Regions from separate parts of the Homo sapiens genome. Here all the other regions are linked to region 1. Evidence: fine-mapped expression QTL. A gene starts in region 1. Each other region holds a variant in brackets. All regions are shown on one strand. Distances are from middle to middle.

Region 1 (8,106 bases):
AGGCTCTTTAGGCCCAAAGATGATTATTAAATGGTTTACTGAAATAATTTGGTAATATTTCAGTAGATTTTATGGTGTTATTCAGTTGGACTTCAAGCTCCTTATATAGCCCTCCTTTTGGTTGTTTACCTCACATTATAGCTAGAGTTTCAAGAGACTTAGGGGATATCTTCCCCTCTATTGGACGTTACTTGCAATGCTGGAGGCACGCAGGAGAGAAACACCCAGAGGAGGCTGGCCTCGTTTGCATAATATTAAGTAGTAATGTATTTAGTTAAATAGGAATATAAATTAGACATCTATTACACCCAGGTCTGGAAAACAGAGCTCAGCAATTACCTGCTCTGATTTAGGCAAATACAAATGCCAAACTGGTTAATTCTGGTTAAAGACAATTTGCTGGTTTAAATCCTTGTAGTTGATAAGGAAAATGTTTGCTGAGCTTTGAACAGGTGCTGATATGATTTGGGTCTGTGTCCCCACCTGAATCTCACGCTGAATTGTAATCCCGGGTGTCAGGGAAGGGCCTGGTGGGAAGTGATTGAATCATGGGGGCAGATTTCCCCCTGGCTGTTCTCGTGATAGTGAGTGAGATCTCACAAGATCTGGCTGTTTAAAACTCTGTGGCACCTCCTCCTTTGCTCTCTCTTTCTCCTTCTCTGGCTGTTTAAGAATTTAAGATGTGACTCTTTCCTCTTCACCTTCTGCCATAATCGTAAGTTTCCTGAGGCTTCCCCAGCCATGCTTCCTGTACAGCCTGTGGAACTGTGAGTCAAACCTCTTTTCTTTATAAATTACCAAGTCTCAGGTAGCTCTTTATAGCAATGCAAGAACAGACTAATACAGGTGCATAGTGATTTGCTGACTGCATGACCCTAAGCCTAGAGGATGTGAGAGTTTGTAAAAAGGCAGAGCAAAGGGGCCAGAATGAGCAGCTGAACCCTTTGCAGTGAATGACTCAATTGTACCATTTGGACACAACCAAACAGACTTGGTGAGTCGACCCAGTTCCTAAAAGCTACCAGAGCAGTTGGCTTGCCAAGGGATCCTGAATAACTGACCAACCCTAAACTGACAAGCCCGGGACCTGCTTAGATTGACCAGTCTATTTCCTTGAGGCACTTTGTGAGTTTTATCTCTATGAGACCCAAGCTTTGCTGTGGAGCTGTCTTCACAGTGACAGCACCCTGGAGTGTGTCTATACACAAGAAAATCTTCACTTAGCACCCTCTGTCCACCTGCAGAATCTTAGACCCTACTCCTGGCTAGCTGAACCAGAATCTACATTTTAAAACAAGACCCTGGGTTGACTGACGTGCACGTTAAAGTTTGAGAAGCACCGAGGTACATCCTCAAAAGGCGATGGTTTTCAAACTTGAACTGGCATCACTCATTAGAATGTCCATCTCTGGGCCCCACCCCCAGACTTGCTGACACTGAGTTGACCCCCAGAGTCAGGACACCTCCAGTGTGGCTGGAGATTGTGCATTTCTAAATACCCAGGTGCTGCCAGTGCTGCTGGACTGGGACCACATTTCAAAAACTGCTCTTCAAACTGTGAGTTGTTTTCCAAGAAGTTAAACTGAAGGCTTCATCCCACAGAGCCTATTCTATGTTAGATTGGGCTTCCCCAGCCTTATCTGGGATGCAACTTAACACTTGTCTTGGCTAGGCACTGTGGCTCATACCTGTAATCCCATCGCTTTGGGAGGCCAAGGCGGGTGGATCGCCTGAGCTCAGGAGTTCAAGACCACCCTGGGCAACATGGTGAAATCCTGTCTCTACCAAAAAATACAAGAAACTAGCCGGGCGTGATGGTGGGTGCCTGAGGTCCCAGCTACTCAGAAGGCTGAGGTGGGAGGATCACTCGAGCCTGGGAAACAGGGGTTGCAATGAGCCAATAACATGCTACTGTACTCCAACCTAGGTGACAGAGTGAGAACCCATCTCAAAACAAACAAAAAATTCGTCTAGTCTGCGTCATCTTTAATTTTCCTTTATCAGAAGAATTATTTATCTATTTGTCTCACTTTCCTTTGCTGACATGATTTTCCCCCCTCAAAAAAGAGATGAAAGTGGAATCATTCTTTCGCTTCAAAAAGTTAAGAATTACTGCTGTCTTTAAAAATATTAATATGAGGCCGGGCGCGGTGGCTCACGCCTGTAATCCCAGCACTTTGGGAGGCCGAGGCAGGCGGATCACGAGGTCAGGAGATCGAGACCATCCTGGCTAAAATGGTGAAACCCCGTCTCTACTAAACATACAAAAAATTAGCCGGGCGTAGTGGCGGGCGCCTGTAGTCCCAGCTACTTGGGAGGCTGAGGCAGGAGAATGGCGTGAACCCGGGAGGCGGAGCTTGCAGTGAACCAGATCCCGCCACTGCACTCCAGCCTAGGCGACAGAGCGAGACTCCGTCTCAAAAAAAAAAAAAAAAAAAAAAAAAATATTAATATGAGCTAGACAAGGTTTTTTAATACATTTCAATTTAATTATGAAGTGTCCAAGACAAGAAAAAACTGTGAAAACCAACGACTTATGTACCTGATGGTTTAGATTTCTTTTGGAATTGTACATCTGTTCAAAATACAATTACATCTGCATTGTTGGAAACGTTTGGATAAAAACCAGTTTATATAAAGGTTTCAATCAGTCCACATCCATGAGAAAGTAGAAAGGGCAGGAAATGATTAAGGGGGATTATTGCTAATCTGATAAACACAGATTTGTGTCTTTCGGAGAGACAGAAGTGTCACTCTCTCCATAGCTGTACCATTCCTACCACCTGGCCCCCAAGTGGCATTGCTTTAACCCATTGTCTCTAGGGAAAATGTTCTCTTTCGATTTTGGTTCTCAGTCCTATAATTTCTGGGGCTTAAATTAGTCCTGGAGCTAGGGAAGAGGTGATGTCATCCTTCCATTGTCTCCTTCGGCCACAGTTTCATTTTAAGAGTATTGGTAAGTAAGTGGGCAGTGTGACTAGATGGCGGTCTGGACTCGGTATCAGGGCTGTGTGCATGCCCAGCTGGGGGGCCTTGGTGGTGTGTGATGTGATAGATACACACATGGTTGGCATCCCCAAGTGTGTCTGCGCTTGGGTTCATTTGTGTGTGCATGTGTGTCCATTTGATGTGGCGTGTCCCCAAGCTTGTGGAGTCGTCTGTGAGTCTGTTTTGTGGGGTGTGGCCCAGGTGTGTCAGGGTCCACCATGCAGTCGGGGCTTGAGCCTGAGTGCCCAGGTGTGTTAGGGTGGATGTGACTTCTGTGGGGCGTCCCCAGGTGTGTGAAGCTGGTTGCGCTGTGTCTGCGGCGGGGCGTCTCCGGCGGGCATCGGCGTGGGTGGGTCTGGCTGTTAGGCGGCCAGTTGTGCGAGCGGCCACGTGTGTGCGAGGGCGCCGCAGGGGCTGGCGGGCCTCGCGTTCCGCCTGCAGGGGGCGCCGCCGGGGGCGGCCTGGGAGCAGAGGCGCGGGCCCGGCCCTGCATTTCCGCCCTGGCCCTGCCCTCCCCGACAGCCCCGGCTGCCGGCAGGTGAGGCGCTGAGCCCGGGCGGGGGTCGGGGCTGCGCCTGCTCCGCCCCCCAGGCGGGGTGTCCTGGCGCCCGCGGGAACCTGGGGCGTCGCTCCCTGCGCGGCGTCCGGGTCGAGGCCGCAGCACTCGGCGTCCCCGCGGGTGAGGGAGGAGGCCTGGGGCGCCGCCGGCCGGCGAGGCCAGCCGGAGGGAGGGGACGGTGGACCCCGAAACGCGTCCTCCATTGCCCCGCGCGGGGGCCACGGGCGCGATTGCCAGAACGGGCAGAGGGCGGTAAAAGCCAGGAACCGCCTCACGCACGGGCGCTGCTTCCCTGTAAAGGAAGCGTGACAGCCCACACGCTGGCTTTCAGAGGACCTCAGCTGAACCGGGCTAACACTTCTCAGAAATTGTTTTTCATTTTAAAGATTTCCTGTTTGTAAGGAGACTAGAAGCTGCAAAAGAAATCTAAAAACGTCTCCTGGCACTTGTGAATTTCTGATCTAAGGTTTCTTTGGAGCCATTAGTGAAACTTCTGAAATTTTGAAGAAATTTACTGCCTTGATTATTAATTATGGTTATCATTGCTGTTTTACTCTGTGGGCCAAGGACAACGCCACAAGCTCAAAAGCAGACTTAAGTGTTTTTTGAACACAGCTTCTTAACTCCACGCTTAGTTGATTTAATATTTAAGTGATAAGAAAATGCAGTCGATTTCTGGCCCTTTTTATTGTTTGGGATGAAGTCTTGCCCTGTTGCCCAGGCTGGAGTGCAGTGGCGCGATCTCGGCTCACTGCAACCTCTGCCTTCCGGGTTCAAGCGATTCTCCTGCCTCAGTCTCCCGGGTAGCTGGGATTACAGGCGCCTGCTATCACGCCCAGCTTATTTTTGTGTTTTTAGTAGAGACAGGGTTTCACCATGTTGGCCAGGCTGGTCTCGAACTCCTGACCCCGTGATCCGCCCGCCTTGGCCTCCCAAAATGTTGGGATTACAGGCATGAGCCACTGCACCCGGGATTTGTGGCCTTTTTTAAAAGCAAGTTATTCGTTTTGCTAAATGTCCCAGGAGAAATGATTAATGAAAAACTAAAGGTGACCTATTTAAAGTGTAGGTCTTACACACACGTAGGTGTCCTTATGTACATTTACCTGTAAGTGAAGACTTTTCCCTGGCCTCATTCAATTTATTGAAATGCTCAGATGAAGAGCACCTGCAGTTTGCCCGTATTTTCCCAAAATGCCTTGTTTTCCTGAAACTATTCCCAGAAGAAGCCAGACTTCCCTGAATAAGCAGACCACTGTGTTCTAGCAGAGATTCGTATTGTAAAAGCTGAGTTTGCAAAGTTAAATTAATTTCTAATTGGTGGATTTTTGTACGGAAATACTTTGGGCTAGTTGATTTTACTAACCAGGCCCTAACTACTACTAGTTAGGAGAGGGTGGTTGTTTGTGGTGATCTGGATAGTAGGTAGCAGTAAGCAGAATAGAAGAGGGATTTTAAAATGATCTGTTCATTTCTCTCTTTACTAGTAAGATTTCCAATCTGTGTCCATTCTTGAAGTGAAGTCATTGGGAGGCTTTGTATCCACCTCGAGCCAGGGCCCTTACCAGTGATTAGGACACCAGCAGGCTGGTGTGGAAGTGTAGTGCAGCCATGCTTGAAGAGGGGACAGGACCCAAGGAAAGGTGACAGTAAGAGGACAGAAACACGAAATATTCGCAGCCCTCTTTAGAACATCCTCCATCTAGGCAAACTCTATTAGGAATTTTAAGAGTTCTCAATTAAACATGACTGCCCAGTGTCCTGCTGAACAGGAATTCATTCTTCAGTTGAAGCTCTATTGTCAGTAAAACTACTCAGGATAAGGCAGCCGTGTTTAGGCCGTGAGGACCTGCCCCTGGACTGCGGAGCTTGCTCCGTAAAAGGCATCGTGATACCCCCTTAAATGGATTTACAGAAAAGACTTAGCTATTGGAAGTCTCTGGGATTGTATGGCATCATGAGGTAACAGACCTGGTAAATAGCTAGAACGTAGCGAAGAATGAAACCAGAGGCAGTGTGCTGTTGGAACTGAGAGGTGAGTGCTCACTGGAGGGCCAGGAGAAGGTCACAGTTGGGGAGACCTTAAGCAGAGAACAGATTTTTATAGGCACAGGAATGGAAAGGGTGGCCAACACCATGAGCAAAAATAAGAAGCTGAAAATGACAGTGTGTTCAGACAAAGGTGAACAACTGGCGTGCTGAGGCTGGACTCCGCGAGAGGAGGGGTGGGGTCGGGGGTGGGGGTGCCTGGAAAGCAAGGCTCTCCAGTGATAACCTCTACATTTTGATCAAGGTTCTGATTTTGTTTGTTTGTTTGTTTTGCTTATTGGGAAAATTTTAAGCAAACATAAAAGCCCAGCAAAGTAGAATGAATTTCCATATATCCATCAAATGGACTTCACAAGTCTTGTTTGGCCATATCCACTTCATCTTTTTTTTTCTTTTTTTGGTTGTGGCTGAAGCAGTTTAAAGCAGTTTATTCCAGACAACATAACACTTCACCCCTAAATTGTTCAGTATGTTTCTCCAGAGAAAGGGCATTTGCTTGTGTAACCATAATACAATTATCACCTCCTGATGAAATTGACAATAATTCCTTAACATTTTCTAAAACCTAGTCCATGATCAGATTTCCCTGATCACCTCAAAAATGAACTTATTTTTACTGTTGGTTTGTTTGAATCCACATCCAGACAAGAATTTGTTGACTGTTACCTTTTTATTTTATTTTATTTTTTGAGACAGGAACCAGCTCTGCTGAGATCATGGCTCACTGTAACCTCGAACTCCTGGATTCAAGCCATCCTCCCACCTCAGCCTCCTGAGTAGTTGGGATTACAGGCATGTGCCACAATGCCCAGCTATTTTTTTTTTTTTTTTTTTTTTTTTTTTTTTTTGGTGGAGACAGGTATTGCCCAGGCTGGTCTTTTTTTTTTTTTTCCTTCCTGAGACGGAGTCTCACTCACTCTTGTCACCCAGGCTGGAGTGCAGTGGCACAATCTTGGCTCACTGCAACCTCCGCCTCCTGGGTTCAAGTGATTCTCATGCCTCAGCCTCCCAAGTAGCTGGGACTACAGGCGCATGCCACCACACCCAACTAATTTTTGTATTTTTAGTAGAGACGGGGTTTCACCATGTTGGCCACACTGGTCTGGAGCTCCTGAACTCAAGTGATCCACCTGCCTCTGCCTCCCAAAGTGCTGCGATTACAGCCGTGAGCCACCGTGCTCAGCTGTTGCCCCTTTCAATCTAGGGCAGGGGTGGCAGATGTCTCTGTGAAGAGCCAGATACCAGCTCTTTCAGGCTTTGCAGGCCCTATGGTCTCTGCCACAACTGCTCAGCTCTGCCATCGTCATGCAGAAGTAGCCAGGGGTGATAGTAAATGGATAAGCATGGCTGTGTTCCAATAATACTTAATTTCCAAAGCTTTTGTGTTTTAAAATCCACCCACAGGCTGGACTTACCCGCAGGCTGTGGTTTGCCGACCCAAGTCTAGAGCAGCCTTGGCGGGTTTCCTCAATACCAATGACTGTCGATGTTACTTGGTTGATTGCCTGTAGGGTGCCTCACACTCTGGATCTGTTGGGCTGCTTTTCGTGGAGTGTGGTTTGGCTTGCTTCTCTATCCCCTATATTTCCTGTAAACTAGAAGTTAGATCTAGAGGCTTAATTAGGTTCATGCTTGCCATTTTTGGCAAGTCTACTTCAGAAGTGGTTTGACTTTTTTTAAATCTAAATTTATCTGACTTTAAAGACTTGGAAACCCTCATCAAAGAATCAAAGAAGCTCAACATTACCAAAATAGGAGCTCAGCATTACTAAAATTGGCTTTGCCTGATGGCTGAGAAGACATTTTTTCTTTTTCTTTTTACTTTTCTTATTTGTAGGAGAGTATATAGAGCTGTTATTTCTCAAATAGTTCTTTTTTGATAGTTAATTTTTGTGGGTACCTAGTAATAGGTGTATATGAGATACAATGTGTAATAATAAACCCTCATTACAAGGTATATGAGATACAATGTGTAATAATCACATCAGGGTAAATGGGGTATCCATCACCTCAAGCATTTATCTTTTGTGTTACAATCTAACGATACTCTTAGTTATTTTTAAATGTATAGTTACATTATTACTGACTATAGTCACCCTGTTGTGCTATCAAATACTAGATCTTATTCCTGCTTTCTGTGTTTTTGTACCCATTAACCATCTCTGCTTTCCCCCAACCCCCCTACTACCCTTCCTAGCCTCTGGTAACCATCATTCTGATCTCTATCTCAGTCAGTTCAATTGTTTTAATTTTTGGCTCCCACAAATGAGTAAGAACATGCAAAGTTTGTCTTTCTGTGTCTGGGTTATTTCACGTCACATAACGACCTCCGGCTGCACCATATTGTTGCAAATGACAGGATCTCCTTTTTAATGGCTGAATAGTACTTCATTGTGTATATGTACCACATTTTGTCAAGGAGGTCTTGAGAACTTTGAACCCTTTCTCTAGGTCACTGGGAAGGTTCCTCTATTCAAGGCATTCTTTGGCCCCTCAAGCATGTGGACTGC
Region 2 (8,106 bases), 88 kb after region 1:
CCTCTTGATCTGCCCACCTCAGCCTCCCAAAGTGCTGGGATTACAGGTGTGAGCCACGGTGCCCGGCCAGTAAGTGAATTCTTGTATGAAGAAGCCTCAGAACACAGAAATGTCATTAAGTATTTAATAGCCATCATTACCACTAATTGCTGTCATTAAAACATGTCCACAGATGGACAGAAATCTTGGGCACAGTCACTGAGAAGACACTGGAGGCTGTCTGGGTGGGTCTCGAATTCAACACACAGGGATCTAAATCGCTCTCACGCCCGCGTACACGCTCTCAGATGCACAACAGCCATGCACCTCAACTCTTCACGCTGACTCTCTCCACTGGAAGTGTCCTCTGATCATATTCTTAGCCTAAAAATTTGGCCTTCTATTCAATTCTCATATGAACATTCTCCCGACTTGGAACGTTGTCCTATCTATGTGGATCTGACTATAATCTTTCCCCAGACTTTAAGACTATGTTGCTAATTTCTCATGGCAGAAGAATTCATATTTGAGGAACCTGAGATTTTATAAGAAAATGAGAATCAGGGGACTGAGCAAGTGAAATTTGACAGCTCTTATAAAACAATGTATTTTATGGAGTTAAAAATAGTTATAGGCTTATTGTAACAAGTCCAATGGTAAAGAGGTGTGTAAAACAATTTACTAATCCACCCTCTCACATCTAATCCCACTCCCCTTCGGTAATGTCAATTTTTATTGTATATCTTTTACTCACATGAATCTATCAAAATATAAACATATATGTATACTACAAATACATTTAGCCTGGGTAAAATGAAACACTGAAGACTGCTTATTATTGAGGATCTCACTCTGTCACTCAGGCTGGAGTGCAGTAGTGTGATCACAGCTCACTGCAGCCTCAACCTCCTCAGCCCATGTGATCCTCCCACCTCAGTCTCCCAAGTAGCTGAGACCATAGGCACATGCCACCATGCCCGGCTAATTTTTTTTTAAATTTTTTGTAAAGACAGAGTTTTGCCATGTTGCCCAGGCTGGTCTCGAACTACTAGGCTCAAGCGATCCATGCCCCTCAGCCTCCCAAAGTGTTGGGATTACAGGCATAAGCCACTGTGCCCAGCCCACAGCTCATTTAAAGAGGGAGAGATTTATGATCTTTGGCCATTCAACATCCTTGACTCACTGTAGACTTTTAAACACAAGATGTTTAATACAGAAAAAACTTTATTTTATTATAATTTCTTTTTTGGGGGGGGATGGAGTTTCGCTCTTGTTGCCCAGGCTGGAGTGCAATGGCGCAACCTCGGCTCACCACAACCTCCACCTCCTGGGTTCAAGTGATTCTCCTGCCTCAGCCTCCCGAGTAGCTGGGATTACAGGCACGCGCCACCACACCCAACTAATTTTGTATTTTTAGTAGAGACAGGGTTTCTCCATGTTGGTCAGGCTGGTCTTGAACTCCCGACCTCAGGTGATCCACCCACCTCGGCCTCCCAAAGTGTTGGGATTACAGGCGTGAGCCACTGCGCCCGGCCAGAAAGAACTTCAGGTAAATTATTTTTCCTCGTACCTGCTTAGCTAGCTTATCTTAAGCATGGCTGTGCTGAGCCTCTGTCAACAGGCAGCCTCTGCCCAGGACAACTCCAGACAACTCCCACTGGACAACTCCAGTGGGAGAGTATCCTCCACTGGCCCTGCCAGTCTCTCTTACCCACGATCCAGCCTCCCCTCCTCCCCAGGAATCAGAAGGTCCAGCTGTAAATACAGCTTTAACGCCCTAGGTCTGCGTCAGCCTCAGCTTCCACAACCTTTCCCAACGCTGCACTGAAAATTCCTGTCCTCTGCCGTCTGCTCTGCCTCCCTCTTCTTTTCTCAACTTTGTTTCCTCTTTTTCTAATTAACCCCAACAGCGTGACTTGTTATCTGCATGTAACAGACAACTCTGCCTGGCTGCAGTGACTCCACTAGGATTTTCCCTAAATCCCTGTCCTTTACTCCTAAGAGTCTGTCTCATATCCTACCATTCACACCAATCAACAGAAAGCTCTCTTAACTTTGTAAATTGTAACCACTCAGTCATTTTCAAGTCTAGAGGGCCAGAAATGCCAAAAGTAACTGCCAAAAGCTTTAGTCACAGAAGTTAAGGTCGATTCCCTGTGGTCTAATTTGTAAATGATAGCTGTCTAATCAAAAATGAGAAAGGCCTACCTAACCCTCTTACCACTGCAATTCAATAATGCTACACAGTAACTCATGAAATAAGACTAGGAGACATTTCCCTTGCATCTGTATAATCCAGAAACCAGGAATACTGAGTACCAGCCATTCTGTGCCGCTCTGCTCTCCTCTTGGTTAAAAATATACAGTACACACAGCCAGGGTGAGGTGGGATGAGAGGGTGCCCGTTCAGCAGGGACATCTACCCTGGCCTCTACCTTAGTGAAATCTGCCTGGATCAGGGGGCTGGGCCTCTGTTTCACAGGCTTAGAAGCTAGACTTCCACTATACACTCATAATGCATCACTCTGAACGAGATGGATTCACTTTTATCAAGCTCACAAGATACTGATGTGTAAAACATCTTAGGAATTTACAATCAGAAATAGGTTTGTAAAGGGAACTCACACACCTCCTAACTGTAGTGTGAGCACTAAATTATAGTCAGTGGTTCTTTGATAAATACAGAATCAGCAGAAGAGGCACTGGCTGAAGTGCTCTCCACCAAGACAGCATAAGCAGCAGTTCTCAATCACCAAAGCATCAAAACTTGCCTGGAGGGCTAGTAAAACCACAGACCGCTAGGCCCCCCACCTGAGTTTCCAATTCAGGTTTGGGTGCATTTTATTTATTTATTTATTTATTTATTTATTGAGAAGGAGTGTCCCTCTGTTGCCCAGGCTGGAGTGCAGCGGCACGATCTCAGCTCAGCCCAACCTCCGCCACCCGGGTTCAAGTGATTTTCCTGCCTCAGCCTCCCAAGTAGCTGGGATTACAGGTATGCGCCACCATGCCCGGCTAATTTTTTTGTATTTTTAGTAGAGACGGGGTTTCACTATGTTGGCCAGGCTGGCCTCAAACTCCTGACCTCGTGAGCCACCCGCCTCGGCCTCCCAAAGTGCTGGGATTACAGGCGTGAGCTGCCACACTGGGCCTGGGGTCTGCATTTCTAGTGAGTTCCCAGGAGACGCTGAAGCTGCTGGTCTGAGGACCACACTGTGGGTGAACAGAAGGCCTTCTCCATTATGGAATGGCCTTTCCCAGGGAATTTAGCTCATGTCCATGAGAAGGCTTTCTTCTCCTAGACTCAGCTGACAATGCGCTGCTGGAGAAGGCTTTTCTGATAGTAGACAATGGAGACTCAGAAGGGTGACGGGGTGGGAGGAGGGTGGATGATGAGAAATTACTTAATGGGTACCATGTACATTAGTCAGGTGATGAATATCTAAAAGCCTTGACTTCCTCTCTATTCAATCTATGCATGTCACAAATTTACACTTGTACCTCGTAAGTTTACAT[A/T]GATAAAATAATTTCAAAAAGTATGTATGACTCTTGTTCTAGGTAGAAAAATCTCTGAGTGACACATTTTTTCTTTTTTTTAAGAGTCTCACTCTGTTGCTCAGGTTGGAATGCAGTGGCATGATCTTGGCGATCTTGGCTCACTGCAACCTCCGCCTCCCAGGTTCAAGCAATTGTCCTGCCTCAGCCTCCCGAGTAGCTGGGACTACAGGCACCCACCACCACACCCGGCTAATTTTTGTATTTTTAGTAGAAACGGGGTTTCACCATATTGGCCAGGCTGGTCTCAAACTCGTGACCTTGTGATCTACCCGCCTCGGCCTCCCAAAGTGCTGGGATTACAGGCGTGAGCCACTGCGCCCAGCTAAAGAAACATCTTTAAAGTATCTTTTGCATAAATTCAGTCTTGCTTATTTGATGTCTCAAGATTTGGGGAGTGTTTTGGTGTCTACAGTTACTACCCCATTAATTTTTCTCTGGCCTCAATGTTGCTGTCCCTAAATTGGATCAAATATATTCTTAGAAGGGTGAGATTAGGAAAGGAACTCGTTAATATAGACTGAAGGCCTCTCTAGTCTGTAAGTAACCTTAATATTCTGAGACTGGAGAATACCACCGTGCTCACTATCTTCTGGGAGAGAGGTTCTCTTTAAATGTTTACAGATTTCAGATGAGCTGAAACCAGCCTTAACTGCTCAATATTTGGGCAACTGGGGACTGTTCGTTTGATCTTTTGGTTTATTAAAAACTATGGGGAAGCTAACAAGTCTTAGAAAATTTAGCAAGGTAACTTTAAATGGAATGCACATGTTATTATTACATGAACTAATTAGTATAAATTCCTTGAAAAGAAACTTTAATATTAAAACATATATAAATATATCCTTAAGGAGAGTTCTGGTCTCAACAAATAATAACAAAATATAAGCGCCAGACCACCACTGCCCTTGGTCTGGTGTCTGCAAGAGGAAATGACACACTGAAGAGCTGGACTTTCATTTGACTTTCAACCGTACTACAATCTTACTAGAATGTGGAGAGCCTGGTGATTCCATCCATTTTAACACTGATCGCCTCAATCTGAAGACAGTCTCAGGGGAAAATGGACTGAGCCACAATTGTTTAGCTTTTTTCCTGGGTGGTAAGTAAGATTCCATTCTTGCCCAATTTCTTACTTCAATTAGATTCAGAGGTAGAATAGTCTAAAGATAGATTCCAAATACTATCTCTCTCATCTTTAAAAAAAGAAAAAATGAATCTGTTATTCCTTTTCCCCAAACGACAGAAGCATGATTTCATTGTATTTTCCTTCAAAACTGTGGCCAATAAAATGCTAGCACCTCCAAAAAAAGTCTCAAGCAACCTGTGAATTAGAAACACAAGAAATATTTTTTCCTTTGCTTCTCCTATGTTATTTTGAAAACTGTGAAAGAAAAAACCTTTTTAAAATGTCAAATATACTTGTCTTGCTTACATTCAGATGTATGCAAAGTTCACTGAGGCGTAGGTCTTATTTTTGTCACTAGACATAATGGGACAGATGTGCTTCTGCAACAGAGGTACGGATGCAGCATGCAGCAGTCTATCCCAGAAGCTCTGTAAACAAACACTCTTTATCCCAAGGAGGCAGGATATGAAAGGCTGGAACCGCCTTAATAAGACACTACTTGTCCCAACATAAAAGTCTGTCTTGAGGCATCCTACTACAGTCTTGCCTATTACTCTGCTGATTAAAGGAGGTTGACTAGAGCCATGTGGGCTAGAAGGAGTGAGGCCTGGACCAGAAGAAAATAATTGCAAAAGTTTCTCTGTCAAACATTAAAAGTCATCAACATCAGAATCACAAATATTTCACTAATCTCTTACATCCTGCAGATGTGCAGATAAGCCATTTCTCTCTGCCCAACACCTGAATGGAACAATGATTATCTTCCGGGATACAAAACTATCTCCTAGTTTCACCAGTTATGTGAGCGCGGATGCTGACAAAGGAGAAGTCTTATTTTTCAAACGTCTTTTGGGAACAGCAAAGGCTATGAATATTTTAGAACTAGTGAGAGAGTGCTATGCTGAGCCACGGAAGCAAACCCCTTGTGTTCCGTGTGTTGACTGCACACGCCCATAGTTTTGTGGCTTGGTGAAAAGCTTTCACTTGTCACAACTCACGGTTTTCCACAATAACGTGAATTGACATCAATGATTTTGCTTGCAATGCGGGTGGAAGTCTTGTCTTCCACTGCCAAGTTCTCAGAACCAGAGAACCAAATCAATGCCTTGTTAAAAGGTTTTGACAAGGTATGGTGGCAGAATACAAAATTTCTCTCTACCATAAACAAGCATGCTAACAAGACAGAGATGAATCATTAAACTACCTCCACCCCAGGAAATATCACTCCAAAACAGTTCAATAGGGAGGAGTTATTTTAAGCATAAAGAACATGGTTGGTAGTGGAATAAACCTACAAAGACCAGACACATGCTCCAGTGTGGATGAACCTCAGAAGTGTTATACTGAGTGGAAGAAGTCACACGCAAACAGTAGGCTAGGGGTTGCTGGGGGAGGTGGGGGAATAGGGAGTGATCACTTAATGGAAATGGGGTTTCCTTTTGGGGTGATGAATCGTCTTGGAACTGGAGAGAGATGATGGTTGTACAGCGTTGTGAACGTTAATAAATGCACTGAATTGTATGTTTTAACTTAGCTAATGGTTAATTGTGTTATGTGAATTTTAACTCAAGGAGCAAGGAAATCTATTTGGCCATATGAATTTGTAAAGCTTTCATTTGCAGGCTCTTCAGTCACTAATACGGGCGTGTTTCCAACTGATTTGTGGCTTTCCTCTTTCTCTCTCTCTTGTTTTTGGTATGTCTTCTCCAGTAGACAGTACTAACCTCCATGAGAGAGCATAATAGTATCTGGTACATAGAGAAGACATTCAATATTTGTGAATGAAAAAATAAAAAAAAATCGGTAATTTTTTTTTTTTTTTTTGGCTAACCTACACATCTCCAGACAAAAAGAGAGGCAACTGGCGATAACTATGACAACTTCCAATGTTGGGCTGGGTGTGGTGGCTCACGCCTGTAATCTCAGCACTTTGGGAGGCTGAGGTGAGAGGATTACTTTGAGGCCAGAAGTTTGAGACCAGCCTGGGCAATATAGCAAGACCTTGTCTCTACAAAAAAACAGGTTAGCCAGGTGTAGTGGCACATATCTGTAATCCTAGCTACTCATGAGGCTGAGGCAGGAGGATCAACTGAGCCCGGTAGTTCGAAGTTTACAGTAAGTTATGATCCTGCCACTGCACTCCAGCCTGGGTGACAGAGTGAGACCCTGTGTCTAAAAAAAAAGAAAAGTAAAAAAAGAAGGAAAAACTTCCAGTGCTGAAGAATGTGATTCTTCAGGCTAAAATCAAGAGCCCACAAATCTGGCAATTTCTCTTAGGGAGAAATTTACCAGGTCTTGGAAACCTCGCTAAATTCTTTTGAACATTTATTTTTGCCTAGACATCACTGAAATTTAGACCTCAGTTCATAATCCTTTTCTTGCTGACAGCATCACTAATGGTCAGCTGCAAAGGTGACCTCACTGGTAGAAGAACAGAGGAAATGACTTGGCATGAATTTAATCTGAAGACTCTTGCAGAATTGCAGCAGTTTCTTGACAGGAGCCTGGAAAAGTCCTGGCAGCTGTGATAGTATCTGCTACCCCAAGCCTTGGTAAGTCAGTACTTACTGCCACTAAAATTAAAAAAAAAAAAAAAAATTAAATTGGCTGGGTGTCAAAGAGGCTACACTGCTTTACCATTCCACAACTTACACTTCTCATTCAAGCCAAAGAATAGTAGGCTTCTCAGATGCATACTTCAAAGCCAAATTCGGTGACTTTTTAGTTTTATTTGCACAACTTGTTCATATTTTCATTTTTCACTAATTTTCACCCTCAAAAAAGTGAAAGAAAAAGAAGTGACAATTTTTTGCAAAGATGATTTTTATTTTCTAAGAGAAGGAAACCAATTTCCAGTGCAACCAAATTAACTGTGCATCCTGTGATGAAACTTCTTTGACTATAATCTTCCCCCCAATTCCCCATTTCTCTGCTATTTTTAGCTCTGTGTTAATTAGGGGAGAGAGAACTATGGAATTAAGAGACAAAAGAGACCCTAGAGCTTTTGAGGAACAAGGAGCACAGCCTTTGCTTCCAGCCTCCCGTGAGAACAAGTGCACTTGTACTGCCATACTGGGATTCCGTGACATCTTCCGAACTCCATCCTAGAACTCAAGCTGCCAGCCACTGTAGCGACCTGAACACACCATGAAGTTTCGTGGCTCCATGGCTGTGTTCATGGTATCATGTCCTTCTACAGTATCCTCCCCATTTTCCTTGGCTTGGCTGACTCATAATCATTACCTTAAGTCACAGTTGAGGTGTCATCAACTCCAGAAGCCTTCCCTGAGCTACCAGGTTGGGTGACATCTACTTACTGGCTCCCAAGGCACCCTGGCTGTCTGTTTAACACTCACCATATTATGCTGAAATTACCAGCTTAACTGTCTATTTCCTTTACCAGATAAATGGAAAAAGGAAAGTAGTAACTTCAGAGTGGAGAA
Region 3 (8,106 bases), 63 kb after region 1:
TCTTTATCAAGTTTTGCTTTCCGAAATTTGTGTTCTGACTTAAAATTAGCAAGGAGGGGCTTGAGGTGGGGAAGAGACAGTCATTTGACTTCTTGGAGGCTCTTGCTTGGGCCTGAAAATGAAAAATGGATTAGAACTCATCGGCCACTGCAGATGCTGCTTGGACTGAAAAGGCTGCTTTCCACAATGCTCCTGCCTCCATTTAGCAGCCCTACTAGAGGACGCAGTGTTAGTGATGCAGCGATGACCAGAGTAGAGGATCTGTTTCCTTTGTGAACTTTTTTTCTCTGGGAGGAAAAGTGGCCTCGCAGGTAGGAACCAGGGCCTGCTACTTTGCACGGGGGCTTCGGGCCACTTCTGCTCTTCTTGGCTGGGTTGGAACTGAGAGGCCTGGGGATGGGGTGAGGTGAACAGAATGCACAGGAAGACTCCAACTAGGAGGGCCGAGGGAGACCCAGGCCACGAGGACAGGAAACCTACTACCACATGGCACCATGCCCCTTCAGGGAACTGATGAGGCCAAGGTCATTTCTGCATTAGCACCTCAGACCTGCCGCACAGGGCCCTTGGCATGCGGCGGACACACGTTCTCGGTCCCCCACACCTAGGCCAAGTTCTCATCATGGATGGATGTCGTGATACTAGGGCAGCACAAATGTTAAATCCCAAAGAACAGATAAAATTTTTACATGAACAGAAACCAACATTTTCTTGTTCACTTTTTAAAGAAGTAATTTAGAAAGAATTCCTTAAAAACGCCACAAATCATGTCATTCTACTCTTCACACCATACCAGCACAGTGCAACTGTCCACACCCCTCCAGACCGGCGGGCTGGGCTCAGGAGCCCCTGGCATACACCTGGGCCTCTGTTCTCCCAGCCGGGACCAGGCATGACATCCCCGCTGCCCCTTCTCTGAGAATCCATTTCATTGCCTTCTGCAGTGACAGAGCATGAGACAGAGGTTGTGTGTCTCTCTGATGCAAACCTGGTTATGAACTGATGGATCTCTCTTTGCACCTGATGTCCCCAAGGCATGGCCACATGCAGAACACGGCCAGCCTTGCGCTTCCCATCATGCTCTCCCATGCAGACACTTCCAAACCACAACGGCCCTCACAAAAGGATCATTTACCTACTAACGGCATCTTTTCAGTCTTTTTAGTCACAGGAAGAATAATGAAGTTACTGCTTAAAAGGACTTTTCTATCTTCAAGAAAAAAATACACTTAAGTTTCACTATGAATGAATTTCAGTACTAATATTTTTTTCTCCCTAAATAATTAAGTCCCACATGTACATGGGGTTTTGGCTTCTCTTGATCTGCAACTGAATTGTTCCCTTTGTAGAGAAATTGTCTTGAAGAGTTACATTAATTTTTGCAATTTGTAAAACCATTTGCTGCTGTGTCACCTAAGTCTCAGATAACTAACTGCCTTCAAGACAGATGTAAACATTAAAAATTAAAGACCCCTTAATTTGAAAGAAAGACATTAAGGTGAAGAACAATTGTTCTTTGACTACCTGAACATAAAGCACAGACTTTTTGGAAGCCACGCTCTCTACGAGGCAGGGATGCATCAGGGCAGAATGGCAAAAGCTCCCAATCCTAACGTCCTCCTCTGTAGAAGCGAGGGGGAGAGGGCGCCTCTGTGGCCCTTTCCAGCCAAACCACCCACGATTCAAAGGTGGGCGTTCCTCCATCACAGGGCCGGCCTGGGCTGATGGGGACTTAGGGACTCACCGTGCCAGTTTTCCCAGCTGTCATACTATTCTGCATTTTCATGGCTTCAATCACACAAATTTCTTGACCTTCTGCTACCTGGAAAACAAAAATGGGCAGAAGTTTTAAAAGCATTCTAATTTTGCATTAACACTTAGGAATGAAGCCATTAAGAAATTCTTTGTCAAATGCCCCAAAATATGTGTCTATGAACAGCAGCAACAATCTCTAATGTTTCCTATTCCAAGCTCATCTTTAGGAACAGTAGAGAAAAGCCATTCTCTCTCTCATAAAGTCCTCGTTGGAAAAAAAAAAAATCCCTGACCCTGGAGAAGTGGGGACCCTGGCGGCGGGGCCTACCCTGGGGATCTCTGAGTCTGGCTCTGCCACTAACAGAGGTGTTCGGAAATTGGAATGTTTTCCACTTACCTGAAATGTCCAGAATAGGCAGATCTCTACAGACAGACTCGAGGTTGCCTGGGGTTGAAGAGGGAAGGGGAGTCACTGCTGAAGGGTACAGGGTTTCTTTTGAGAGTGATAAAAATGTTCCAAAATTGATTGTGGTGACAACTACACAACTCTGAATTGACTGAAACCACCGAATCGTACACGTTAAAGGGCTAAATTGTATGTGAATTACATCTCAGTATAGCTGTTACCAAAAAAAAAAAACCACCACCAAATATACATATTTCTGTCTATAGTCCCGGGGAACTGGGAACAGCTCGGCCCTGGCGCCACGAGGACCACTGTCCCATCCTCTGCAAGACACAGCGAGTACCCACAACAAGGCACAAGGCAGCTTCCGGAAAACCCTCCAGACACAGGAATGACTTCCAGAGCTACATGCATTCCATGCTAGGAGACTGGGAGCGCCCACGGGCCTTTGCTCAGACTGCGTTCAGAACTTGCCTTTCATCCTGAGGGGCAGCCAGGCTGAGCTGGGTTAAGCCCACTGGCGTTAAGCGTGAGGCTTCCCTGCAGGAGTGAGCTGCAGCTGAAAACCATGCTGCGCACTCACTTCGCTCTGCCCCGATGGGTCAGCGTCCTGAGCCGGCCAGGTTTTTCTTTGGCCTCCCAGTCTTTGAAACGGGCAAGTCCAGGTTCCTAGGGCAATGGCTATGTGGTGTGGGTGGGTGTCCTGGCATGGGGCTCCTGGCCCCTCACACCACTGTGGCCATATTCGTCCAATGCCTCAGAAGCGCCTAGAGAATGTTCTTTCCTGAAATCCCCAGATGATCTCCAAGTCCCCCTCTGGCCCCCCCGTGTGGCGCAAGCTGTCTTGCTGGCACTCTGGAGCGCCTGAGCCGATGTACTCTTTTCCTCTGCTGTTCAGGTGGTGGGCTGCTTCTTCCTGGCATAGAAATATAGGAAGAGAGACGATGCCAAGGCTTTGGCGCTGGCACGGAGGAGAGACACCGCGCTGAGGAGCTGGGCCTGGAAGCGCTGCCCGCGCTGCCCTTTTTGATTCATTTTCACGTGGCATCTGCATTCCAGGGAGAGCGAAGAATCAGCCTCGAGGGCTGTTTGCAGGGGGATGGGAGGGGCAGCGCAGAGACAA[T/C]GCAGAGGCCCCCATCAGGGGTGTCAGAACAGTCACTCCCTCCAGTTGGCATTTTACAGCCTTTTTTCTCTCTTCAAAGGCAGGCAAAGACCAGGGAATCCAGGAGCAGGTCCAGTTCACTGCAGCACACCTGCCAGCCAGCTCCACACAGGGGACCCTGGAAGCCTGGCCGTGTCCTCTTAGAAGCTGGACTCACTGCGACTGACTCTGACCTAGGACTGAGCACTCAGGCAACAGGACCGGGGACTCTCTGGGAAGTGGATCTGAGACTCAACAGAACATAGTAGAAATGCCATCCAAAAATGAGGAATCCACTCTCCCGCTCTGGGCACTGTTCTCTCTCCAGGTGGAGGAGCTTCCTGGGGACTGCATGCCGGCCTCCCAAACACCCACCCAGCCCTTCCTCTGCAGGCATCTGAGGGCCCAGGACTGGCCAGAGCCCCGTCCCCCCGCCAAGTACATTGGCTTCACATGGGTGGCACAGCCCCTACCCTCTCTGCCAGTAGGTGTGCCCTTCCACCACACGTCCCCTCCCATCCCCTTGCTCAGAATCTGCGGGCCAGACAGGCAGGCAGCTCCTGCTTCTGTTTTACAGGATCTTCAAGTGAGTGCGTTAGCAACTCAACTGCAAATATGAAGAAATGCGGCCTGGGGATTTCCCAAGGTCACGCTAGGGGCAAAGGCCAGCCTGACCTGGCTACAGCTCTACTCTGGGCCCCGCCAGGGCCTGGGAGCAAGTGGGTGGTGGACAGGAGCTTAAGGGGCTCTGCTGTGGCTGCCACTGACCATCTTTCTGGCTGGCTCTGTGCTTCTAATGTGGGTGATTTGCAAAGAGGTAACGCACAGGTAACTGCAAGTGCTGGGTCCCCAGTTGTTCATCAGAAAAAAACCTCGGATTTAGCCCGAGACAATCAGGAAAAGTGGGGAGGCCTGAAATTCAAATAGTCCTTCTGTCTGATTGTGAGAGTCCGGCAATTCAATTCAAAGGACTTTAAAGAAGGCGTGTCCCCACTGAAGCGATCCCATCTTCTGCCCCATCCAAGCACAGCACTGAATCATAGAATTAGATCCTCCCTGCTCCATCCGCCTTTCATTCCTGTTTCCCCTCCCTAGTTCCTCTCGTGGTGTCTACTAGTCTACTTATTTAGCTCTATCCTATCTATCTTATCTGCCTGTCTGTCTGTCTATCTATCTATCTATCTATCTATCTATCTATCTATCTATCTATCCATCTTAGAGACAGAATCTCGGTCTATCCTATCTATCCTATCTAATCTATTTTATCTATCTATCTATCTTATGTAATCTAATCTAATCTATCTAATCTATCTATCTATCTTAGAGACAGAATCTCGGTCTGTTGCCCAGGCTGGAGTGCAGCGGCACAATCTCAGCTCACTGCAACCTCTACCTCCCAAGTTCAAGCGATTCTTCTGCCTCAGCCTCCTGAGTAGCTGGGAATACAGGTGTGCACCACCACGCCCAGCTAATTTTTGTATTTTTAGTACAGATAGGGTATTACCACATTGGCCAGGCTGGTCTCAAACTCCTGACCTCAAGTGATCCGCCCACCTTGGCCTCCCAAAGTGCTGGGGTTACAGATGTGTGCCACTGTGCCCAGCCTAGATTATTTAGCTGTAAATGAAAAACTAAGTAGCACACTTCTCTATTAATTTTGCACCATCTGTTTTGTAGACCGTTTTCCCTAATTCATCCCTAAGAGATGGTGTTTAAAAACTTCCTTCATGCCTTACAAAATAGTGAGATACATCTTGCTCAACAGAAACATGTTCTACCCCAACACACACACACACACACACACACACACACACACACACGAGCTTAATTGAATTTCAACATGTTTCATCCTTTGGAAAAAATTGAGCTGGAGAACCAAATGTACAAACCAAATGTCAAAGAATGCAATGGAAACACAAACTACACCTGCCCCAGTCTGTGGGAAGAGGCTGACACTCGAGGGCGTGCTCCAGGGATGGCTGGGCATTGAGCTGGGCTCCTTCCAACAACAGCAAAATGCCAGCACTCGGCCCTTGGGAGCAGGGGCTCTCACCTTAGGACTTTGGAGCCTTGCTCCCAGCAGCGCTGACTCCTGCAGAATGTGTCGCACACCGTAGAGTACATGTAGGGTACACCAGGGAGCTGGGCAGTGGGCCCAATGGAAGCAACACCTTCCGGATTGCCCAGGGTGGCTGGGAAGCCAAGCATTAATTGGGTGCACAGAGAGGGCCCTCCACCATTCCGTCTCCATCAGACGCCCCCATGTGCGGGGCCCGTTCCTGCAGGATGTGTGCGCACGTTTCTCCAACACTTTTGTGAATCATCTGATAAAGACTTAATGATTGTGACAGGATGTCTCCAATGTTGGGCTTACAAAATGGTCACAAGCCTCACAAGTCTTTTTGATGAACCTAGTGGGCCTGATGTATCTCCCCGCTCCCTGTCTAATTGGTGTAAAGTTTGAAGGCCTGAATCCTGTATCTTTCATCCAGCTTATTGCGTCCTCTCCTTTGACACGAGGTCAAGGTTCACGTTCGCATCCGATTATCAGAGCGGCACTCATTAAGCAGGAGTCGGCCTTGCCCCAAACAAGGCTTGAGAGAAACCTCGGCCCATTTACTCAGCAGATTTTCGCATGTCGTGGGGGCCCGAGTGTCACCCAGCATTGCTCTGTGCTGAAGAGCTGCAGACACCTCCAGCTGATGATGAATTGTGAGTGATGGGAATCAAATCCCGTAAAGCCAGCTGCTTGCCATGGTCGGCAAAATGACTCTAATGGATATAGGCTGCCAATTTTCCAGTTTTACTGGCAAGTCTTCCAAGTGTAATTAAGGGAAGTTATAAATGATATGGAAATCTATCAAGTTCCATTTATTTTCAGAGGACTCTTTCCCCAGAGACTTTTATCTTCAAGCTTATAGTATGCTTTGTTGTGCTAATGATTTAAACCACTTCTTATTTCTGATTAAAGCCCCCAATATCCTTCTACCAAGTTCTCTTCACTCCTTCCACAAAGATTAAAAGACAGAGAACCTTCTCCCGCACATGCCCCCTCTCAGAAAACATGCTAAGACAGGGACACATTTGGCAATGCCGATCATTCAAACTGCAGACTGCCATGACCACGAAGAACGCTCAAAGAAAGTGCAGGAAGAAAAAGAAGAGAACGGGGGAAAAAAGACCACCAAACATAAAAGGAAGCCCCCACAAGCACAGGCTTGAAAGCGGTGCTCAAGACCAGATATTCATCAGAAGGTGGTGTAGCTCACTAATGTTATTTGATTTGGAATAAAAGCATGAAAATGATGGCAAAGGCCTAAAATTGGAGATGTAAAGGATGACTGCACAGTATTCCATTTCTCAATTTCATCCTTCAGAGCCACAAAATGGGGGTGATACAGTGAGTGGATGAGATTTACAGTAACAGCTGTGGTCTCCCACACAAGGGAGGCCCTTCTAATGGGCTGAGGTCTGTTTGGAACAGACGGGGAGTAACAAAACAAGGTTCCCTATTAAGAGTGTGCAGTCGTATTTCTGATAAAGAAAATGACGAGGGAGTCAGGTCTCCTTTAAGACAGCCCATCCTCTTTTTGTTGCCCAAACCCAGGGCTGTTTTAAAGGTGTTATCGTTGAAATAGAGGCCAGGGGACGTTCACAGCATCGAGCCGCCCCGCCCCCCAGGAAGCCCACTCTCTAGCAACTGTAAGGAATGCAGAGGAAACGGTGCCAGTGGCATATGGCTTTCCACTGTGCTAAACATTCATACAAAAGACAGGTTCATCAGTCATTGGAGTATCTGGATAAAAAATTAGCTCCTGATGGATGGTATTTTGAGCTTACCTGCTGCTAGTACATTACCAGAGAAACACAGGTTTTGAAACCCACATGACATTAGAAACTGCAGACCATGAAATACGACACGTGCAGGAGCACACAATGTACGCCAGATTATACAAAATAATAAATAAGCTATTTAAACCCTCTGCCTAAAATTGGGCCCGCTGCAAGGAACCCTGGGTCACTTCTACGCAGGCCAATTAATGCACAGCATCTGCTGTACAGAAGCAGGGCATGAAGCACTTCCGAATGATTTCGGCAATTAAAAGAAAACTGTTTCCTGCCTGTTCAGACCGCAACTGTTTCGATGCAAGAGTGAGCACCAAATCACTGCGTGCAGCTGAAAAATTAAGTCCCCTTTTTGGGGAAGAAGGGTGGGTGGGAGGAAGAATTTTTATGGAAAAAGGAGGCTTCTTTTGTTGTCCTACATTCTGTGTTTTTCTGCCAAATTAGACAGAAGGCTCGGAGGGCTTACCAGCCCGCTGCAGTTTCCACTTCTGCAACGCCGGACCACCGGAAAAACACGGATCAATATCAGCCCTGGTGTCTACGCCACAAAAGTGAAAATCCCACCATTTCATTGTTAAAGGCTGGTCTGCTTGGAACACAGGTGCCTGAATGCCACACATTTTAAGGCCCTTAGATCTGAAGAAAGGTTCAGTTAACAGTCACAAAAAAAGGCATCTCAGATTGAGTGAAAAGGCACTGCCTGCTCGCATCTGATTATATTAATAGCAACTTCCTCTGAGCCGGTAAGATAGGCTGGTAAATATCCCCTGATATTTCCTGAAGAAGAAACGTGTATTCACATCCCAACATCTTCATGTAAAGCGAGACGGGGAGGAGGCCACGGGAGACTGCAGTATTTGAGCAAGGATGGAACCATCATCAAATTACAAAGACAGACCAGGCGGGCAGGAGACGCCGCCCAGCCCTTTCTCCGGCTGAAGACTCCTTTAATGGCCCA
Region 4 (8,106 bases), 23 kb after region 1:
GAGCCCTCATAGAGAACCTCTGCTAGGGCAGTGCAGAAGGGAAATTTGGGGTTGAAGCCCCCACACAGAGTCCCCACTGGGGCACTGCCTAGTAGAGCTGTGGGAAAAGGGTCCTTCACACTCCAGAGTGGTGGAACCACCAATGGCTTGCACCGTGCACCTGGAAAAGCAGCAGACACTCAATGCCAGTCTGTGAAGGCAGCTGGGAGGGAGGCTGTACCCTGCAAAGCCATAGGGGCGGAGCTGCCCAAGGCCATGAGAGCCCACCTCTTGCATCAGCATGCCCTGGATGTGAAACATGGAGTCAAAGGAGATCATTTTGGAACTTTAAGATTTAATGATTGCCCTATTGGATTTCAGACTTGCATGGGGCCTGTAGCCCCTTTGTTTTGGCCAATTTATCCCATTTGGAATGGGTTTATTTATCCAATGGCTGTACCTTCATTGTATGTAAGAAGTAACTAACTTGATTTTGATTTTGTGGGCTCATGGGCAGAGGGGACTTGCTTTGTATCAGATGAGACTTTGGACTTCACTTTTGAGCTAACGCTGGAATGAGTTAAGACTGAGGGACTGTTGGGAGGGCATGATTGTGTTTTGAATTGTGAAGACATATGATTTGGGAGGGGCCAGCAGTGGGATGTTATGGTTTGGCTCATCTTAAATTGTAGTTCCAAATCTCATCTTGAATTGTAGTTCCCATAATCCTGACGTGTCATGGGAGGCACCTGGTGGAGATAATTGAATCATGGGGGATGGTTTCTCCTATCCTGTTCTCGTGATAGTGAGTTAGTTCTCACAAAATCTGATGCTTTTATAAGGGGCTTGCCCCTTCACTGGGCACTCATTCTTCTCCTTGATGCCACTGCCTTGTGAAGAAGGACATGTTTGGTTCCCCTTCTGCCATGGTTGTAAGTTTCCTGAGGCCTCCTCAGCTATGCTGAATGTAAATCAATTAAACCTCTTTCTTTTATAAATTACCCAGTCTTGGGTGTCTTTATTAGCAGCATGAGAACAGACTAATACAAGGTCTTCAGTAACCCCTGACAGCAGGATGTTGGCCAATAAATATAAAAAGTGGGATTGGTAGAAATTGCTGATTGCAACCAAATATCCATTCTCTTCTTTCTTAATTACTGGTCCTGTTTTATTCAGTGACCCATGTGCCTAGTTATGGTGAATGAGAGGTAAGCAGAAATGTGTGGGGCTTCCAGGGAGGTTTTGAAAAGGAACCCGATTCAATTGGAAGTAGGGCCCTGGTTCTTCACCTGCCCTGCCTCATGCCACCTCCTTTGAATGTGACATTATGGCTAGAGCTCCACCAGCCTTTTTTGTCTTGTGAGGGAAGATGGTGGTACCTGAGATTAGAAATTAGTTAACACATAGAAGGATCAGTCAGATACATAACTGCATTCAGGCTAGTGGGAGCCAGGTTTCCCAGTGTCAAAGAAGAGAGTTATTAATACAGAAATGCAGAAAACTGGAATGAATCCTGTGATATGCTTTGGGTTGTGTGTGTTTGTGTGAATTCATGGTTTTCAATAAGTGTAGACAGATATAGAAGTGAACATAGATGTAAAGGTGTAAAGAAGTGAATGTAAGTGTGCGTGTGTGTATGTTTATATGTGGATACAGGCATATATTCTGCTGGCGCAGGGGTTGTGGACAGATGCAGCCCAAAGACAGCACACCCTGCACCCAGATCTTGGCATCTAAATACCATTTGCTACAAGAGAACAAGAGCTCCTTGGAGAGAGGGCTGATGCCAGGGCTGGGACAGGGAAAGTCTAAGATGAGCCTGGAACATCTTGAACCAGAAAGCAATGGAATAATGAGGAAGATGGGCCAAGGGGACAGAGAAGCTTGCTGGAATTCACCCCATCTGTCCAAAAGGGGACAATGTAAGCATCAAAAGAAATAATGATAGCATTGAATATAATAGGAAACCATAAGTCCATGTAGATACAAATAAATAAATGAACAAGTGGCAGGTTTGATGGTGAATGAGATGTTGCATGGTTTCAAAATCCCTCTTCATAAAATGCTTAACTATAAAGGGCAAAAGAGTAACTTCTCTGTGGAGAAGCCTGGCAGTCACCACCTTAAGTGATCAGAGTGAATGTCATCAATAATGGAGCAAGTTGAAATCATATGGTGTCTGATAGGAGGCAGTGAGAAGAACATAGCATCATTTCGGAAAGATTCCTGCTCAAGATATACCATCCGAATCTAATCAGGAGACAGCATCAGACAAAACCAAATTCAGGGACATTCAACCAAATCAATGGCCTGCAATCTTTAAAGGATCGTGAATGCCAAAGACAGGCAGGAATTGTTCCAGATGGAAGGAGGCTAAAGGACATAGCTACATGCAATTGGGATTGTGCACTGGGCCCTTTTGCTGTAAAGCACGTTATCAGGACAGTTGGAAAAAGTTCAAACTGTCTGCGAGAAGGTGGTAAACTTAGTCACAAATGCTGATGCCCTGATGTCACAGGTTGTAGTGTAGTGAGATCAGATGTCTTTGTGGGAAACAGACATGACTGTGTTCAGGGATAAAGGGCATCAGGTTGGCAACTAACCAGTGGTTTACTCCCTGAGCAGACACTTCTTAAATACCTACCCACCCAGTTACCAGGGCTGAGAGCCGAGGAGCATGAGTTGCTGGTGCCCGGGCCCCCAGGGATCTGGTAAAGGGGACCTCGGCAGCCGCAAGGCCAGGGGCAAAGGGCAGCAGTGTCCCAGGGTCAGTTCTGCCTCTAGGGCTCACGGTGAGAGACATGGTACCAGAAGGATGGTGTTTGAAGTAACCTGGAAGCACAAGGAGGATTTTGCCAGGCAGAGTGCTGAGGAGTGAAGAGTGTGAAGGGCCTGAAAGGCAGTAGCAACCGAGAAAGCAAAGAAAGTACCACAGGCAGTGTGAGGCATGGCTGAGCGGCAACTGGCCTTTGTGAGCACGTGAAGACATTTGGATTGGCCCTCTGGACTTATCCACTGCTGAGGAACAAATCACCCCCAAAATTAGTGACTGAAAACAACAAAAATTATCCCACAGTTTCTGTGGCTCAGGATCTAAGAGTGGCTTAGCTGTGTGATTCTGACTTGGGTCTGTCACAGGCTGCACTCAGGTGCTGGCTGCACTGTGGCCTTCTCCAGGCTTGACTTGGGGAGA[C/G]CTGGAGCTCACTTCCCTGACAGCTGGCATGCCTTGGTCCTTTCTGACTGTTGGTGGAGACCTCACTTCTTCTCTACGTGGCATCTCCATGGAAATGCTCATAGCATGGCAGCTGGCTTCCTTCACAGTAGGGGATCTGAGAGCGGCAGAGAGCTCCCAGGACAGAAGCCGCAGTCTTTTTATAACTGAATCCCATCACTTCCTCTGGATTGTGTTTGTTGGCTGTCAGTCACTAAACCCATGCTTGGAGGGGCAGGAATCACACAGGGACAGGGATGCCAGGCATGGGCTTGGTGGGTGCCATGTGAGAGTCTGCTTGCCACACAGAAGTCCCCACAGCTGGACAGGCAGGGGCACATCCAGGCATGCATGTTGGAGGTATCACTCTAGCTCTGAGGGGGAGCAGCAGTGAAACTATTTGGGAGAGGATCACAGAGGACAGAATTGAGTGGGGAAGAAGAAATGGGCGTCATCATCAACGTAAAACACTGCTCAAGCAGCTGGGGAGGAAAGGGGGGTTAACCTGAGTGGTTAGAAACCAGCTTCTGCAGAGATGCTTTTGCAGAATCCTTTTGCTGTGAAAGCTACAAGGCAGCGACCTCGTTTCAAACACCTGGTGTCACCAGCACCACGTTTTAAAGTTGTGAAATATCAGGGCTGTTATTTTTTCAGTTACGTCTCGTAAGCACTACTTTGCCTTGACTGTCAGGAGTCAGATGTGCAAATGAAAGCTGTTAACGTTGTCAGGTAGGTTGACTGGACCAGGCTTTAAAATACCAACTAATCCCTTTTGACACTCTGATCTTTCAGCATGATGGTTAAAGGATTGTGTCTTTCCTTTTGAAATCTCCCAGTTTTTTGAACTCTGATCTGAGCACAAATTATTTTAAAGAATGAAGTTTTCCCTGAGATTTTAGATTTTTCATCTCACCAAGCCGCTCTAAACAAGACGAACCGTGAATTCTTAGAGTAGAGCCACATACGCAGTGGGAACAAGGTCAAAGATTGGGAAGGAGGCGGCGGCCATCCCCTGTGAAATACTACAGGGAGAGCATACCAGGTCTGTATCACAACAGGCTTTTCCTTGCATCATTGTGCTTGAAGTTAAAAACAAACATCACAACCTCCCTTTAAACCTGTATGTTCCCTGGGAATAGTAGCGGTCTGGAGTGTGGTTAAAATGCTGTTTCTGGAAGGGTGACCTGGGCCTTGGGCTTCCCTCCCCCATAAAGGCCTGGCTTCTGCTGGGTTCAGGCCCAGCCCCCCCGCCCCCTGCCCGGGGCATAGAGCACTCAGAGCTGGGTACTGCATGATGCTGGTGACACCAGGTGTTGAAAGTAAAAAATGTAATTTATTTCCACACTTTTCAAATGGCCATTCCTGTGGCTTAATATTTGTACTTCGGTCGACCTTGAATCATGAAAGTAAAAACATAATGCTCTTAGAAAATGTGTACTCAGCGTTATTTAGGCAACAGTCTCGTAGTTAAATAGAATGATAAGAAATTTAAAGGGTGAATGTGTACTAAACTTGGAAGGGCTACCTGTTAGTTATTCTAAGGCTTTTTGTATTATCTTCATTTTCACATATTTTGTTTTCCTTTTTGTATAACTTGGATAATTTTTTTAAAAAAGATGTTTATACAAATCTTCAATCTTTAATACTTGGAAAATTAGCTCTTCTGGTTCTTTGAACTTGCCATGTAGGTGAAGGTTGAATGTAAGTCTTTTTTAGGAAAACCTGTGAAAATGAAGGAGTGCCCCTTCTCTGTTTTTAAAGTATACAGAGCATCATGAATCCTCTTTAATCTAAAAGTTAGTAGTTCGAGAGCATCACTGTAAAACAGATAGACCCTTCCCACAATCAATGATTTTCCCAAAGGGTAATCACCAGAATCGCCTGGAGAGCTTTGAAAAATACTGTATTTTATTTGAAATGTAGATTCCTGCCCCCAGCTCCTAAATTACTAAATCCAACTCTCTTGCGAGGGACCTAGAACATCAGCGTTGAAGCTTCACATGCATTTTGGGAACTCAACAGGCGTGGGGAGCCCCAGCCGCAGGTCCAGCCCAGGGTGGCCACAGGCACCGAGACTGCCCCAGGCTTCCCTCCACCCAGTCCCTGTCTTTTGGTTCCCAGTAGCCCACAGGCCCCCAGGGGTTCCAAATCTCTGTTCCCTGCACACGCCTGGGCTCACGCTCCTTGCCTGGAAGGCACCCACCTCCTCCTTTCCCCTCTTTCCAGCATGGTTTTTACCCTCCTCCAGGGGCAGTGCCCAACCTGTTGGGGGCTGCATCCAAGTCACCCACACAAAATTCATTCTTCTCTTTCCTGTTCCTTATGACATGCTGAACAAACCCTTCACTGTGGCATTCCACACATCATATTCTAATAGTAGATTTTATCTGTATCATCTTTTAAAGTTTAGTTTAATTAATTAATGTAAAGACAGGGTCTTAACTGTGTTGCTCAGGCTGGACTCAAACTCCTAGGCTCAAGTGATCCTCCTACCTTGGCCTCCCGAGTAGCCAGGACTACAAGCATGTGCCACCATGCCCAGCTTGGACCACTTTAAAAGATTTATTTACTTTTAATTTAGAGGTTTTTTTATTGAGATAAAATTCACAGAACAGAAAACCATTTAAAAGTGAAGGATTCCATGATTATTTAGTACATAATGTTATGTGATTACAACTTCTGTCTAGTTCCAGAACATTTTCCTCACCCCAAAAGAAAGAAACCTCTTCCACACTAAGCATCCCTCCCATTCTTCCATCCCGAGCCCCTGGCAGCCCCCATCCCCCTACCTGTCACTGTGGCTTTACCCGTGCTGGGTGTTCTGGATCAGTGGATGCATGTCACATGTGCCCCATGTGTCTGGCCCCTCTGAGTGAGGATAATATTTGCAGATTGATCGTGGGGCAGCATCCATCAGTGCATTCATTCACTAGGGTTGCTACAACCAAGTGCCACAGACCGGGTGGCTTCAACAACAGAACTTTCTCACAGTTCTAGTGGTTCAGAAGTCCAAGATCAGGGGCCGGCAGGGTTGGTTTCTCTGGAAGCCTCTGCTTGGCTTGATTTATATAAGTAAGATTGTGTGGAGTCTGCTTGCAATTCAAGGCAAGTAACGCTTTGACTTGCTTTCTTTTTTAGCACATGGCAGTGGGGGCCCAGGCAGGGGAACGGGAGCTCTTTTTTTGGGGTTGTTAGGAGTTTGAACTCTGGAGTCAAGAAACCACCCAAGTTTAAGGCTGTGCCTTTTCTTTTTTCTTTTCTTTTTTTTCTTTTTTTTTTTTTGAGACATTGTCTCGCTGTGTTGCCCAGGCTGGAGTGCAGTCGCGTGATCTCAGCTCACTGCAACCTCCGCCTCCTGGGTTCAAGTGATTCTCGTGCCTCAGCCTCCCAAGTAGCTGGGATTACCGGCATGCACCACCATGCCTGGCTAATTTTTGTATTTTTAGTAGAGACGGGGTTTTACTATGTTGGCTGGGCTGGTCTCAAACTCGTGACCTCAGGTGATCTGCCTGCCTTGGCCTCCCAAAGTGTTGGAATTACAGGCGTGAGCCACCACACCTGGCCTCATGTGCCTCTCTTACCAGTGGTGTGACTTTGGGTGAGTTGCCTGTGCTGTCTGTCCCAGTGTCCTCTGAGTGCTGTGAAGGTGGGTGAAGTATATTTGGTGAATCACAGGTACTGCGTGAGGTGCCAGGCATGATCCTTGCTGGTGCCAGGTTTGAAGAAAATGGTGTTTGTGCAAGGAAAAATTTTTTTTTCTGTGCAAAACTAAGGTGTATTTATGAAAATGGAAATCAAGTCTTAGCCCTTCACCGAGCTTAGTTGTAGAGAATATCTAGGGTAGTTTCTGTCGGGGTCCACACAGGCAGTGGACAGGGGCTTGCCGTTTTATAGAAGAATAAAATTTCACAACTTCTGTGTACTTCCAGTAATTTGAGCTTTAGGTTGAAGCTTGCGAGGTAGGCAAGGTAAGAGTTTCTGTCCCTATTTAGAGGCACCTAAACCCCAGTGAGGCAAAGTGAGTCACCCAGGAGCTGCCTGGAATCTGGTCCTTTCGAACCCACTGTTGGGCACAGCCTCCTCCGGGGCATGCAGACTCTGCCGCATGACCTTTGAGCAGAGTTAATGATTTCCTATTTGTTTTATTTCATTCAAAACAACTGTCATTGCTTGAACCCACCCATGCTGGGCACTTGTATACTCCCAGGGGATCCCACTCCCCCACTCTGGGAAGTGCCAGGGTCTCACTGGACAGAGAAGGAGATCCAGGATGAGAGGTTCAGTCATTTGCCAAGGTCGTGAGCCCCAGCCCCCCACTGAGCAGCACCTCTGCCCCTCCAGGGTCCTGGGTTGGAGGTGTGAAGGGCATCCCGGGCCCTCCCACTGCTGGGTTCTTCTAAGTACAGGAATGTCTGCTGCACACATCTTCTGAAGATAGCATTCTCTTGATCTGAGAAGGGAACCAGTACCACTTGCTGGGTGTTTAGCCAGCACTGCACATTTCAGAATCTCATCCTGGTGTTAATAGCCCCAGGTAAGACAAGGCCACATGTCCAGGAAAGCCTTCTGTGGGAAGACACTGCATTAAGATAGCTCAAAATCGGGGTGAAGAGGCAGGAGGCAGGGCTTACCATCTTCATCCATCAACTATTAACTTTATGATAGAAACCATTTCAGTGTTATTTTTGTTTGCTATGGATCTATACAGAATTGCATTATTTTAATGCTTTATTGAGAAATAATTCACATACCATACAGTTCACCACCATTACCAAGTCAGATGTAAGCAGCTCTCTGGGGCTGTTCCTAATATGGAAGTGTTGCTTATACCAGAAAATGATAACCAAAATGAAATATAACACAACGTTCAAGGAAAGCTTGTAGATAATCATTGGTAAAATAATAGCAATGGAGCT

Evidence for each region.
Region 2: its variant is fine-mapped to the expression of GGACT in whole blood (TOPMed, PIP above 0.99).
Region 3: its variant is fine-mapped to the expression of GGACT in whole blood (TOPMed, PIP above 0.99).
Region 4: its variant is fine-mapped to the expression of GGACT in whole blood (INTERVAL, PIP 0.92).

The regions. Positions count from the first base shown.
Region 1 is chr13:100,584,161-100,592,266 of GRCh38, reverse strand. GGACT (gamma-glutamylamine cyclotransferase) reads left to right here and starts at 3,478. Exons shown (of 3, transcript NM_001195087.2): 1 at 3,478-3,526. RefSeq lists a silencer at 3,326-3,845.
Region 2 is chr13:100,496,617-100,504,722 of GRCh38, reverse strand. The region is part of intron 21 of PCCA (propionyl-CoA carboxylase subunit alpha); the gene reads right to left. Among named protein-coding and RNA genes, the nearest start is that of PCCA-AS1, 20 kb to the right of the region's middle. RefSeq lists an enhancer at 1,593-2,230. The variant A/T (reference allele first, on the strand shown) is at 3,496.
Region 3 is chr13:100,521,391-100,529,496 of GRCh38, reverse strand. PCCA (propionyl-CoA carboxylase subunit alpha) reads right to left here. Exons shown (of 24, transcript NM_000282.4): 23 at 1,745-1,822. Among named protein-coding and RNA genes, the nearest start is that of PCCA-AS1, 44 kb to the right of the region's middle. RefSeq lists an enhancer at 3,863-4,385. The variant T/C (reference allele first, on the strand shown) is at 3,285.
Region 4 is chr13:100,561,162-100,569,267 of GRCh38, reverse strand. All of the region lies in intron 2 of GGACT (gamma-glutamylamine cyclotransferase), which reads left to right. Among named protein-coding and RNA genes, the nearest start is that of GGACT, 24 kb to the left of the region's middle. The variant C/G (reference allele first, on the strand shown) is at 3,173.